Regions from separate parts of the Homo sapiens genome. Here region 2 is linked to region 1. The links come from fine-mapping of genetic effects on gene expression. A gene starts in region 1. The other region holds a variant in brackets. All regions are shown on one strand. Distances are between the middles of the regions. Region 1 holds the start of FRMPD4 (FERM and PDZ domain containing 4). Region 2 overlaps FRMPD4 (FERM and PDZ domain containing 4).

Region 1 (4,394 bases):
TTAGCATCTGAGGCCACCAAAAAGTATCCTGGTTACTTTGAACTATACTATTGGTTGAACTTCCCTTTCCCTTTAGCAGTATCTCTGTCCATCACACGGAGGGTACCACTTAGCCTCTAAACTTGCACACAGCTGCTTCCCAACCATGGTTCAATATTTGACAGCTGTTTAGAAACTAGCCCTAGGCAGAAGCATGCAGGAAGTTAATAGAATAGTGGTGTGAAGCAATGGCCCTCTATGAGATCAGCTTGAAAGCAAACAATTGGCCACACCACAATCATCCACTGCTTAACACATCAGTCTTCTGATCTGCAGGACAACACCTCTTCCTGAGCTGCTCTAAGACACAGGTATTTACCCATCAACTGCGTATCTCCAGTCTACTTAGAGTAAGCTGCACTGGGCCTTTCTGCCTGGGGAAATCTGCTAGTGGCATGAAGACTGACCCATGTTAGTAGAAAGGGAAGGTGGAGATGGGCAGGCAGAACAAAGACCTGTAGATGTCGGAGAGAATGGCAACATCCAAACAGAACCTTTCTGAAGTGGTCTAATGTAATTTAATAAAGCAAAGTCAACATACGTTTCTACCTCTGACTATTGGAAGCTGCTCATCCCTGCCTGATGCAATCAACACATCTCACTCTGACACTCAGGACTGAAGGAAAACCTGGGATTATTCTGTCCATATTGCAAGTAAGTTTTTAAGCTACATCCTGGAAAAACCCAACTGTCTACCTCCTACGTCCTGGTGGTAGCTGCTATAAAGAGCTCCAGGGGCAGAGAAGGTTGGGCATGGTTTTCTAAGACCACTCCTATTGGGCTCTTCCCAATTAATGCCACATAGCAAGCAGCACAAACCTTACTCTGTGGCTCAAACGAAGACTTTGGAAGCATAAGCAGGGCAGAAGACCTGGAGGAGTGCTCTGGCCAGGCAACACCTAGGCGGCCCAAGCGTGGAAATGTTCCTCTTTTATCAGTACTACCCAAAAATGTCTGAATCGATGATTTAGTTTTAGCTACTGTTTTAACAACATGGCCACTTAGAAGAAAATTTCTAAATCTTTCGAGGCTTAAGAATATAGTTACCCCCCCCCCAAAAAAAAAAAGGCTGAAAGTCTTTCTCTTCTATCTACATGACTTCGCCATCTAGGTTACCGTTGGGAGCACCTGGTCAATCTAGGAGCTGACTTTGTGGAGGTGTGGAGGTGTAATTTAGGAGTTGGGGGAAGGCGGCACTTTTGGTCTTTGCAGCTTGGAAGGCAGGCACCCAAGCTCCAAGCACTTCTGGGTTTCCCTAGCAGTAGCAATTACAACCATCTTCTCTTAGCCCTGAATTATACATGGGACCCCAAACACCGCTGGGGCTTTTCCTTAGGGAAAACAAACTGTCGTGAATGTCGGTGTGTTGGTGAGGGCATGTATGTACCTCTCTGTGTGTGGTCTACACCCGCCGCTACACAAGCCTCAGCAGCCAGTGAGAAATAAGTTGAACGTGGAAGCCCCCGGCCACTTCGTTTGTCTTAAGCCCCGTCGCGCTTTCCAGCTTTTGCCTCTACCCAGCCTCCCGAAAAATAAGGCACCAAGTTGCCCGCGGCAGCGGCCCTGGGTGCAAACGGAACCCGCGCAGCCCCTACCTCGAAAGCTTTGCAATCTTCACAAAGCTGAAGACATCCATGCAGGCAGCTGGGGACCCCCGAGCGCGACAACTCCGTCGCCCCTTCTCACGCCAGCAACAGCAGCCTCCGCAGCCCCATGGCCAAGACCTCAGTGCGCCCGGGGCTCGAGTCGCGGCGACAGCGGGTGGCGGCGGCGGCCGGAGAGAACCTGCACCTGGAGGCGGCGGCTGCTACCCCCCTCCGGCCGCGAGCTGCGTGTGCATCCCCGAGCAGGACCATTGATAGGCACCCGAGGCAGGAAAACTCAATGGAGAGGGAGCCAGGCAGGGCGCAAGAGGCGGGGGCGGGGAGCGCGGCCCGGGTCTCGCGCCCCGCCCCGTGCGCTCTAGCCCCGGGGACTGCCGGGCGTCCAGAGAAAGCGAGGCCTGGGCGAGAGGCGCTGCTCTGGCTTCCCGGCCCTCGGACCCTCGTGCCCCACGCACCGAGGAGCGCAGACGGAGCCGGGAGACGGCAGGCGAGCTGGGCACACGCGCACGCACCCCTCGCAGCACTGCAGCTGCCTCCCTGCCTCCTTCTCCAAGCCGAGTCCCTGCTCCTCTCCCCACCCCCACCCGCCCGGGGGGAGGGGGCACTCTCCTGTCACCCACTGCGTGTGCCTCTAGATCTGAAGGATCTGGTCTAACAGTCTATGGCACACTGGAGAACTGTGAACGCTACCCCTCCCTCCCCAAGCCGAAGGAGAGCCGTGCAACCGCAGGTTGCTCAAAGCCTCGGTTTGCTCCGTAAACAAAACTAGCGTTCGGAAGGAGCAGGGATGATTGAGGTTGGGTCGTTTGTCAAGGGGAAGGGAAGGGAGATGCCAGGCGCAGCGGGCTCGATTCGGGGAGCTCAGAGTTCCCACTGCTTCTCCCGAATCGCTGGGGCGAGACGTGACCACTGGGCTGGCTGGGAAGGTGTGTCTTTGGACAGCAGCACCGCGGGAGTGTCTGCCAAATAAGAACCGGAGGCATTTGCGGGTAGGGGGATGAACACAGCTGCTCCCTCCTCGAGGAGCATAGAGCGGAGGGTCCCAGGAGCCCGTGATGCGGAGGCTAATTCTAACCGGGCTCAGAATCTAAGGAAAGAGAAGGATTAGAATGGGGTCTGCCACGCAGAGCGAGCTGCTTTTGCACACTGAGCCTTGGGTGAAGGGAACAGGGAAGAAAAAAACAAAACAAAACAAAACCTTGCCGGAGAAGCAAAAACACAGAAACATAAACACTCACCTTAGGCAGAGTAAACTCCAAGTTGCAGCCATCTAGAACTCCTCCTAGCCTTCTCTTTTACATAATTACCTTGGATAATCAGCCCTGTTCATTAACTCAGTTCTACCTCCTGGGAGGCTCAGGCTTCATTGGGCCCCTTTTTCTTCTTCCTCTTGAAGTCTCAAGGCCTCTTCTCCACAATCCTTTAAAATTTCCCCCCAGACTGTGAAGGTCAGCTGGCCGCACTAAGTGTGTGCTCTCCCACCGGCAGCGTTCACCTGGCGGCAGGGCCACCGCAAAGAACAGAGAGCACCCCCAGAAATGTTGGAAGATCCAGCCAGTGTTCCAGTCTAGCTCTCCGAGGGGATTAAGAAAGAAATAGGTTTAAAGTTCCCACACTTCTGCTCCTCTCCTGGTCTGTTGTTATATTTAAAGTCTTCAGTATTCAAGCCTAGTACTAAAGCGTTTTTTTTAAGCATTTATTTCAAAAACTGAACATAAAATAAATAGCAATCTGCAAAATCTAAATGACTTAAAACTCAGGCATAAAATTACATGTTTTTGAATACATAGTTATCAGTTTTCCTGCAGCTTCTATTAAACAGGCTAGTTTAATTGCATGAACGCAGTTACTACTCAAGGATCGGAAGGGGCGAGAGGGACCTTGGCTTTTGAACTCTATTGTTTGTAAAATAATTATAGTTTGGGTCTGCACTGTGCTTTATAATTTTTAAAGCTTTTTTTTGCATTGGAGTCTCATCGCAACCTTTTCATATAAGGCAATATATTTAGAAATCTTTTATTTTTATGCCATAATCTATTCTCAACATACCAGACAAAAAGATGTTTTGTGTGTGTGTATGTGTGTGTGTGTGTGTGTGTGTGTGTGTGTGTGTTTTAACGTAGATCACATAAGGCTACTTGTCTGATCTAAAATATGTAAAAGCTCCCCATTGTCCGTCAAGCTAAAGTTGCGCTCCTGCAAGGGCCAACAGGACCCTAGATCCCGTATCCTTTGATCTTTCTTACCTCAACTATTACTGCCCACTTCCCTCTCCCGTTTTTCTCTGTCCCTCCTCATCCCCTACCCCGAGCCCCTCCTCTCTCACACACATACACTCACTGGGCTCCAGCAATTCTGGACTTCTTGCTATCCTTCAAACTCTACAGGTAATCTTCCCACCTTAGGCTCTTTGCAATGGTTGTTCCCTCAGCCTGGAATGCTCTTTCCTGGGATATCTGCATGGCCGGCTTCTCCACCCTGTCAAATGTATGCACCAATACCACTTCCAAAATGCCCCCTCTAGAAAGCCAATTTAAAATTGCAAAAGGTTCTCACACCCTGGACTCCGAGTCCCTATTAACTGTTTTATTCTTTTTTCTTGTTTCCATAGCATTTATCACCCACTAGCACACTATATAATTTATTTTTATCTTTAGGATTTCTTTTTTTTTTTTTTGGTCTGAATCTCCCACTGGAGCTCCACAAGGGCTGGGATCTTTGTTTTGTTTTGCTTTTGTTTTTCACTGATGG
Region 2 (4,394 bases), 250 kb before region 1:
AAGTAAACTCTTCTATACATTCACTACAATGTATCTTTTTCATTTTTAATCATAAATTGACCATTTATAATTGTATATATTTATGGGATATAACGTGTTATATTTATGAATACAATGTGGAATAATTAAATCAAGCTAATTAACATATCCATTACCTTAAATATTTGAATATTTGAAATTTACTCTCAGCAAATTTTGTTGTTGTTGTTGTTGTTTGGTTTTGTTTTTTTTTTTGAGATGGATCTCTTTCTGTCACCCAGGCTGGAGTGCAGTGGTGAGATCTCAGCTCACTGCAATTTCCACCTCCCAGGTTCAAGTGATTCTCCTGCCACAGCCTCCCAAGTAGCTGTGATCGCAGGTATGCACCATCACGCCTGGCTAATTTTTCGTATTTGTAGTAGAGACAGGGTTTCCCCATGTTGGCCAGGCTGGTCTCAAGCTCCTGACCTGAGGTGATCCGCCCACCTCAGCCTCCCAAAGTGCTGGGATTACAGGCGTGATCCACCGCGCCCAGCCACTCTCAGCAATTTTGAAATGTACAGTACACTATTATTAGCTATATCCACCACACTGTGCAGTAGATCTCACAAAATAACTTATTCCTCGTGTCTGAGATTTGTACCCTTTGACTAACATCTCCCTGTTCCTCCCACCCCTCAGCCCCTGTAATCACCATTCTACTCTGCTTCCATGAATTCAATTGTTTTAGATTCCACACGTAAGTGACAACATGTGGTATTTGTCTTGCTGTACCTGGCTTATTTCACTTAGCATAGTGTTCTCCCATTCCATCCATGTTGTCAAAAATGACATGGTTTTCTTCTTTTTTAAAGGCTGAATAGTACTCCATTGTGTGTATATATATATATATATATATATATATATATATCACATTTTCTTTATCCATTCATCCGTTGATGGACACATAGGTTGATTCCATAACTTGGCTATTGTGAATAGTGCTGCAGTGAACATGGGAGTGCAGGCATCTCTTCAACAAAGTGATTTAAGATCTTTTGGGTAAATAACCAAAAGAAGTGGGGGTGGGATTGCTATATCATATAGATATTTTATTTTTATTTAGTTTTTTTTTTTTTAATTTTTTGAGATGGAGTCTCACTGTCACCCAGGCTGGAGTGCAGTGGCATGATCTTGGCTCACTGCAACCTCCACCTCCTGGGTTCAAGCAATTTTCCTGCCTCAGCTCCCCGAGTAGCTGGGACTACAGGTGCACGCCACCATGCCCAGCTAATTTTTGTATTTTTAGTAGAGACAGGGTTTCACCATATTGGCCAGGCTGGTCTCGAACTCCTGACCTCGTGATCTGCCCGCTTTGGCCTCCCAAAGTGCTGGGATTACAGGCGTGAGCCACCGCACCCAGCCTATTTTTAGTTTTGTTAAGAATATATCTTGCATCTACAAATTTGAATTGATTTTTTAAAACTTTTGAATTAAAATCTAGTATATACAATGAAGTACATAAATCATAAGTGTATAGCTCAGTGAGTTTTTACATATGTATAGACCCTTGTAACTAACACTTTTGCCAAGATATAGAACATATCCAGCACCCAGAAGTTTCCCTCTTATGCCTTCCCAGTGAATACCCAGTTCTCCCCGGAAGTTTTCATTATTCTGACTTCTGTCACCATACTGTATGACAGTAGTTCATTCTTGGCATCACTGTACAGTATTTTACTATATAACTATACTACTTTTTTTTTTTTTTTAAGATTGATTCCCATATCCTGGAGGTAAGGCTAGCAAAGGAAGAGCTGCCACAGTGGTAACTGAGGTGGTCAATGGCCAATTACACCACTCACAGACATGGACGCTGGCTCTCAGATGTGCTAAGACCACAACCGAGACAAATCTATTGTATGCCTGAGAAAGAATGGAAGGGGAGAGAAGGGGTAGAAAGTATTTTAGGATTTCAGAATTTGTCTTATATCATATACCATCCTGCTCATCTAGTCCTCAGAGACTTACAGGAAAAAAAAAAACAAACAAAAAACAGCAGTCCCTGACATGATACCCATATATCAATTTAAGAAGTTGCATTATTAACATAATTTTTATTAAATCTCATCTACAAGAGGGATTTCCGGCAAGATGTTGATCCACGATGAATTCATTTGAATTATGCATTTCTTATTGACCTGATTTCAACCTCTCTCTTCAATCGTGACACCTTATTAAAAAGCTTTGTTCATCGACATAACTTTTCTTCTGCCTCTGAGTGAGATTCATTTCACTCTATAATCAATAAGACTAGTGTTCCATTGAGCATCTTTCAGGCAGTTGCTTTGACATTATTTAATCTGTCTTAGAATTTCTTAGAGGCTTAGGTTTAATGCCGTAAAATAGAAATAAACAGCCTTTAATTACCAGGTCTGCGTGAAATGGTGTTAACGCAAGTTTAACATATCTGTGGCCCTGAGAATGTTTGTGGGATCCAAAACAGTGAAAAATATTTATGAAGGTTTCAT[T/G]TGCAAATTTTGTTACTAAAAAGCTTCCTAATATCATTAAACATTAGACATTCATCTCACTCAGAGACAAAGAAAGGATGGCTTCCCTATTGTTTTAAGATTTCTTAACTCGGTAGTTAAAAGAATAGAGCAACCAATGAACACAAAGTTAAAACTAAATACAGTAAAGAAAAATAGCCTTCAATAAAATTTAAAAAAGCTTCTCTTTATGTTTTGTTTGCCAAGAATTGCATACTTTGATTTCTTTCTAGTATAACTACTAACTGTTCAGCAAATGCTTTTCTTCTGATATGGATGAGAACAAAAAACAAATTGTCCGTAATGATTCTTTAGGGTCAGCCTCTCTGCCTAGCCCCCACCCCGCCCCATAAGGCTAGCTAGATCTCTTTATAACAAAATAATCTCCTTTTCTGATGACAAATTCTTGCCATTTTATATATTTATCATCATCGCCACTTGTTACTCTTGATGAAAAGCCTTTGTCCTTCAAGCTGCACCTCTTTTTTCTATCATCCACTGCCAGCCCCTTTGTAGCCAGTGACATATTAGGTAAACACACAAGAACTGCTAAGGCATTTTCATGCAAAGATGATGATAAGTCGGCTACGGTAAAACAAGCAGAGGAGCAGATAATTCATTCTGGTTCTTTTATTTCCCGGAAGCAAACTGAATAGGTAAAGAGTGTACCAATTCAACAAGCAGTCAGCTATGACGTACAAACTCTGAGAGGGTTAGATAGACCCCAGAATGCTTTGAGGATCTCATCTATCAAATTCAAGGCTGAACCACAAAAATTAGAAAAAGTCCCTCCTAATCAATCCATCCACATACTTTCGTCCTTGGCTGCTCATAAATTTTCCTCTGTTCACCCACTGCATAAACCATTTAGTCTGTATTTGGGTGCCAACTCTCCCAAGCTTTTCTCTATCATGTAATTTTCCACAGAAATAGGTTGTTGCTTTGTACCTCATCATTTGAGAGGGTCATTTCACTTGGTGGAAATTTCAGCTGCACTGAGCTCCTTCCAGATGTTATGAGATTTAACTCTGAACACCTGGTTTCACTCTGAAGGGCTGGGATTTGTTTCCAATTATGAGGCAGATAGGGGTGTTCTTTATGTGATTTCCTAAGTAAGGTTTTGCTCCTGGGAAACTTGAAAATCTTCAAGTTCAATGAAGAGAAGCAAGAGATGGGTAATCTCAAAGCTCACCTGAAAAGCAGAGTTCTGCTTATTTGTGCACATTCCAAATGTGTGATAGGACTGTCAAAGGAATGATTTTAAAGGCCTTGGATTGCAATTAGGAGGAAACTTACTGTGAGAAAAACAAAGCACTATCTTAAACTCCTCCAAACAGCTTTTTCAAACAAGGTTCCCTCTTTCTCTTTGGACTGCTTTATTTGTGGGTTAAGGTGCAGGTTCTTATCTACCATTTTGCTCAGTGACAATCTAAATTATTCTTAGAAACTCTTTGATTCTCCTTTTTCATTGTTTTTAATTACATGTTAATATACTTTCCTTAAAATTCACCAAAGCCTCTTGTTTTAAACATATTTGTGAAATATGCAATTTTTGGTGTAGTTCAGTTCCCTCTTTAAGACTCAATGTGTAACGGGTAAACTTTTGTTGATTGGCGTTTCCACTCGGGAATGATTTTATTATAAATTCAAGTCCACTTAATTACTGACCTTGTGACAATTATACAGAGTAACTGAAGGACTGACCTTGTCCCTTGGTATTACTGAATAAGATCTATATTCTCAGCAGTGTGGGATCACAGGCAGCAGGTCAGAAGGGGACTTGCCCTCTCTACACCAAGCTGCTCTAAGGTTCCGTTGCATAGACACGATGGGAAACACAGAATTTCTTAGTGTGCTCTTTAAACTGCCTAGCCCCACAATGTCATG

The links. PIP is the estimated chance that this variant, and not a neighbour inherited with it, causes the effect. A credible set is the group of variants that fine-mapping cannot tell apart.
Region 2: its variant is the best candidate, but not a certain one, in a credible set for the expression of FRMPD4 in fibroblasts (GTEx, PIP 0.85).

What each region holds. Positions count from the first base shown.
Region 1 is chrX:12,136,253-12,140,646 of GRCh38, reverse strand. FRMPD4 (FERM and PDZ domain containing 4) reads right to left here and starts at 2,174. Exons shown (of 17, transcript NM_001368397.1): 1 at 1,635-2,174. The coding sequence starts at 1,675.
Region 2 is chrX:12,385,314-12,389,707 of GRCh38, reverse strand. The region is part of intron 1 of FRMPD4 (FERM and PDZ domain containing 4); the gene reads right to left. Among named protein-coding and RNA genes, the nearest start is that of FRMPD4-AS1, 12 kb to the right of the region's middle. The variant T/G (reference allele first, on the strand shown) is at 2,490.